Linked DNA regions of Homo sapiens: region 2 is linked to region 1. The links come from fine-mapping of genetic effects on gene expression. A gene starts in region 1. The other region holds a variant in brackets. All regions are shown on one strand. Distances are between the middles of the regions.

What was found. PIP is the estimated chance that this variant, and not a neighbour inherited with it, causes the effect.
Region 2: its variant is fine-mapped to the expression of NDUFA9 in whole blood (TOPMed, PIP above 0.99).

Annotation. Positions count from the first base shown.
Region 1 is chr12:4,647,763-4,650,262 of GRCh38, reverse strand. NDUFA9 (NADH:ubiquinone oxidoreductase subunit A9) reads right to left here and starts at 1,149. Exons shown (of 11, transcript NM_005002.5): 1 at 1,088-1,149. The coding sequence starts at 1,136. It overlaps AKAP3 (A-kinase anchoring protein 3), which reads left to right and starts at 1,212. Exons shown (of 6, transcript NM_001278309.2): 1 at 1,212-1,518. RefSeq lists enhancers at 724-1,379, 1,248-1,457, 1,738-1,787.
Region 2 is chr12:4,669,761-4,672,793 of GRCh38, reverse strand. NDUFA9 (NADH:ubiquinone oxidoreductase subunit A9) reads right to left here. Exons shown (of 11, transcript NM_005002.5): 8 at 2,977-3,033. Among named protein-coding and RNA genes, the nearest start is that of NDUFA9, 22 kb to the right of the region's middle. The variant G/A (reference allele first, on the strand shown) is at 1,486.

The DNA of each region.
Region 1 (2,500 bases):
AGATGGAAAACAAAAAAAAAAGGATCCTCTAAACACTCCTAATTCTTGCCTCAGGCTGAACATCAAGCCTATCTGTGGTGCTTTTAAAAATTTAAGGTGCAAGGAGCTAATCTCACAAATTCTGACTCAATAGCTCTACACTCAGTCCTCATTTCTAATTTTTATAAAGCTTTACGAGTGATTCTGACATGAGCCAATTTTGAAAGCAAATGATATTCTGTAACGACTAAAATACACTAAGAAAAATACAACTTTGGGGGTTTGATTGGAATATGTTTGTGGAAGAGTAGAGGGTGAAAGGACAATGATGAAGTGTAACCGTATTTCTAATTTCCTTGCTTTTTAGTGAGTGGAAGGACAAATGTATGTTTTCAGTTTGAGGAGTGGGAGCAGATCCAATCAGAACAGAAGAGAAACTAAATAATGCTAACAAATTCTAACATAGCCTTCATTCTTCACTTTCCTTTCCACCAAGCTCCTGATTCTTCTCTCCTCAAACATCACTCTCTCCCCCAGACCCCAACGCACTTTGCCGAACACATTCTACATCCGTAGAGACGCTTTTGGGTAAAAGGATGCTTTTACAAATATTAGCTCATTTAATCTTATCAGAGACTCCCTGGTATTGTAATATTATCATTTCCATTGTGCTCATATGAATTGAGACCCATTAAGGGTTTGCACAAGGTCATAAAATCAATCTAAGAAAACCTCTCGCCACTAGCCTTTTTTCCCTCCCTTACACATTTCTCCCCCCGCCCCATACAAATATTTCTCATAACCCTAAACCCTTACAACCATATCAGAATTCTGATTCTCTCGATCCCTAACGTGTCCCCCGCATTCTCCTCTTCGCTTACAGCTGCTTAAGATCTTTTGTCCCCTCCCAAGGTGGTGCACAATTGAATATGTGAGCCGGGGAAGCGGAAAGCGAAAGGAGAAACCAGACTGAGGCAGCTCCAAACCTAGAGAAACCAGAGTGTGCCTAGGAAGTTGGCGTGACCGCTGCAGCACGGTGCCACTTCCAAAACCTTAAATCCCCGTCTCGGAATCCCGACCAGGGGCCGCCGTTCCCGGTAACACTTACGTGACATTGACAGGACCCGGACAACCCGGGATTGTGCGGCAGCCGCCATCTTTTCCCACAATCCCCCACGACAGCACTCCCGGCTGACTACGGCTGCTAAGCTGGGTCAAAACTTACCTTTCTCGCCTGTCTGCGCAAGCGCTAACCAAGAAACGACGGTTTCGGGTAGATTGTTGGTTAAGAAGAAAGCTGGGAAAGTGAAGGAGAGGGGGAAGAAAGGAAGTGAAAAGACTTTGGCTGTTGGAATCTCAGATCTGGAATAGGCTGTATAGGCTATTTATAATCTCTAATTGCCGAGGAACCTGAAGTTCAGAGTTAACCAGTGACTGACTCAGGACATGCAAAATGGCAAGACCCGAGGTAGAAGAGCTCACCTTTCCTGACTCTCAGTTTCCTGTTCCCTGAAAATGTAAGCTAAGCTGGCAGCCCTGGTGAGTCCGGAGGAAGAAGGAGGCGTAGCCCTCCGCGCTCAGGAGATCCAGGGCCCAGGAGAGAGAAAAGGGGGGACAAGAACGAGGGGAAAAGTGGAGAAGAGAAACCAAAATAGGGTGTGTCCCAAGTAAATAAATGTGCGTCGAGCCCGCCAAGCACATTCTCTCATAGGGACCCTTGCGCCTGCTGTTCGCGTTTCCTGGAATGCACACTCAGGTGTCTGCACCAGCTCAAGTCTCTGCTCAAAAGTGACCTCTTCGGATAAAACTTCTCTGACCATCCTATCCAAGGTGGTAATTATTCCACCAATTTTTGGTTTAAGTTTATATACCAAAGCACTTATCACCAACTAGCATATGAATCTAGGAGTTCTTAACCAGAAGTGTGATTCATGAGTGGGCTTCGGGAAATCTGTGAACTTCCTGAAATATTATGCAAATTTAGTGGCCATGTGTGCCATCTGAACATCTGTCTAAGGAGAAACTGCAGATGGCTCTCTCTAGCGCAATGGCTTGTAATTTTTTCTTTAACTGTGGTCACCTTTGAGAATCTGCATTGTTCTACAAAGAGCCATCTAGAAACTGAGGAAATTCCAGGTTAGACTAAGCGCTTGGATTTTAAAATACTTTATTCTGGTCAACCTCTCCAGATTGCTGGGTAGGAGATGGCAACCAGTGATCCTGTGAAACATACCTTAGGCTTATCAGAAAACCACCTAGTTTGGGGAGGGCGGGTTCTTTCTAGACTTGGTAATCCTTCCAGTGCTTTGTTTTTTCAGGAAAAGTATGTGTTTCTGGGATAGACAAAAAGGCCTGTGATGAGTAGGGATGTAGAAGTTGCTTATTACTAGGCTTGAAATCTTGGCTGTTTCCACTCTATCTTGCCCCTACTGTTTACTGAAGTGTCGCCTAACAAATTGAATTGGAAGAGAGAAAAAAACCTTGAATTTCATCGGAGAAGCTTAGTAGTAACGCTACACTG
Region 2 (3,033 bases), 22 kb before region 1:
CAACTGCCCCTTCCCCCAGATGCTCTGTCCCAGGATGGTGGGGGTTTTATCTATAAGTCCCTGACTTGGGCTACTGCCTTTTTTTCAGAGATGCCTGGCCCAGAGAGGAGGGAATCTGGAGAGGCAGTCTGGCCACAGTGTCTTCCTGAGCTGCAGTGGGCTCTGCCCAGTTTGAACTTCCTGGTGGCTTTGTTTACTGTGAGGGGAAAACCACCTACTCAAATCTCAGCAATGGTGGACGCCCCTCCCTCCCAAGCTCATACGTCCCAGGTTGAACTCAGACTGCTGAGCTAGGAGCGAGAATTTCAAGCCAGTAGATCTTAGCTTGCTGGGCTCTGTGGGGGTGGGACCCGCTGAGCCAGATCACTTGGCTCCCTGGCTTCAGCCCACTTTCCAGGGGAGTGAAAGGTTCTGTCTCACTGGCGTTCCAGGTGCCACTGGGATATGGAAAAAAAACTCCTGCGGCTAGCCCAGTGTCTGCCCAAACGGCTGCCCAGTTTGGTGCTGGAAAACCAGGGCCCTGGTGGCATGGGCACCTTAGTGAATCTCCTGGTCTGCGGATTGCAAAGACCATGGGAAAAGCGCAGTATCTGGGCCAGAGTGCATGGTACAGTCCCTAATGGCTTCCCTTGGCTAGGAGAGGGAGTTCCCCGACCCCTTATGCTTCCCGGGTGAAGCGACACCCCACCCTGTTTTGGCTCACCCTCCTTGGGCTGCACCCACCGTCCAACCAGTCCCAATGAGATGAACCAGGCACCTCAGTTGGAAATGCAGAAATCACTCGCCTTCTGTGTCAATCTTGCTGGCAGCTGCAGACTGCAGCTGTTCCTATTCAGCCATCTTGCCACCAATCCTTGTTTTATAACTCTTACACTGAAGTCTCTGAATTATTTTAATTTTTTCATGTACAGAGCAAGGTAGGAGTCGAAGTTCATCTTTTTTTTAATGTGGATATCCCAAAACCATTTGTTGAAAAGACTATCCTTTCCCCTTTGAAATGCCATAGCACCTTTTTCAAAAATCAATTGTCCATAAAGATTTATTTCTGAACTATCAATTCTGGTTAATTCATCTATACGTCAATTCTTATGTCAGTACCATACTATCTTGATAATTATAGCTATTAGGTTTTGAAATTATGAAACTTAATGGTTTTGTCTATTGTGGGTCTTTGCATTACCATATAAATTTAGAATCAATTTATCAACTTCTGCAAAAAAGTCTGTTGGAATTTCGATAGAATTAAGTTGAATTTGTCAATCAATTTGAAGGAAATTATCATTTTAATCATACTGACTCATTCAATCCATGAACATGGTATGTCATTACTTATTAGGTATAATATAATAAATTTAATTGTTAAATTTATACTTAAATATTCTATTATTTTTTATGCTGCTGTGAATAAAATTCTTTTCTTAATTTTATTTTCACATTGTTCATTTACTAGTATATATTGATTTTTCTATGCTGATCTTATACATC[G/A]TGATTTTGCTGAATGTGTTTATTCATCATCACAGTTGTGTGTAATGTTGTATGAGTGTGTATCAATAGGTATTTTATGAATGAATGGCAAATAGAATGGACCAACATAATATAATTCATAATTACAAAAAACCTAGGAGGAAAATTATAGTCTTATGCCACTGCCTTAGCCTCAAAATATCAGAGAAAGAAGCAAAGTTTTTTCCTGGGGCTGAAGAGATGAGAAATGTGTAGATACCTATCTACAATTTCAAGAGGAAAAATATCTACACTGCAATGTCTAGTATTATTTTTCCCATCGTTACGCCAAACAAGAATGACTTACTGGAGCCCAGACAAAAGGATAATGGCTGGGCAAAGGTAAAAAGGAAAATGTGCAACTCATCCAGAGCTAGAGCAAGTAAAGTTCACAAAGCCATTTCCGCTCATTTATTCCCTGAAATCCTAGTCCATGTACCTCTTCACTGGAACTAATGTCTTTTGTGTAGTATTTTATGAAACCTGTATTGAATATATTGAATTGTAATTCTTATCTAGACTATATAACTGATTGCATGCTAATGTACCAAACTGGGAACTGAAAAGGAGAAATATATTTTGCAGCTGCTAGTTGACATGGAAAACCAAGACTTTCACACTGAAAAAAATTATGTATTAAATAATAATAGTGGAACATAACAATGTATAGATTCAGAATTCTGGGAGTATATTCTATGCCTCTTGGCTTAAAGAGAACAGTGTCATTTTCCTCTAGAGGCAAACATTTCTTATGAATTAGGCTATCCCTTAATTACTGAGCCAGATCCTTAACTTTCATAGATGTCAAGTGTCACTAGTTTGCTTCACAGAATCACAGGGTTATGAACCACTTACCAGGTGAATTTGATACCTCTCAACTTGGCAAATGAAGTCTTAGTTTTTGACTTTTAGTTAATTCAGCAAAAAAATTCCTAAGCTTAGCTGTCACATGATTTAGTAATTTCAGGTAAGCCACATAGCTTAACTGTACCCCTTTTTTCTGAAAGCAAATTTTAGCAAAGAGCATAAAAGAAATAATCAATCTCGCACAGCACTAGTAATTGTGCTATAAACCACCCGTTTTTCAGCCTCTGGAGGCATTGTGATACTCCATCAAAATTAATGTGGTTTTATAACCATACTTACTCCCTAAAAGTGTTTTGTTTGTGTTTTAGAATTTACAGCAATATCCTTTTATATATTAAAAACATCACTGGAGTAGTACAAAACCATCCCTAAGGGTCACTGGACTAAGTATATGTAATAGTCTAGGGCAGTGGTTCTCAGACCTTGGTAACAGAAGAATCATTCATTAAAGTAGATTCCAGGTTCCCTCAAATTCTGATTTAATGCAAGCAATGAGGAGATTTTGATATTGTAAAAGTGCAACAAATAAATCTGTTAGTAACTAATTTAGATATTGATTCCTTCATTATAATAGCACAATTTAAAATTCAAACTCTAAGCACTTACCCAACGAAAGCAAAGGATTTCCCATTGGCATCAGGATCCTTAACTGCATTAACAATT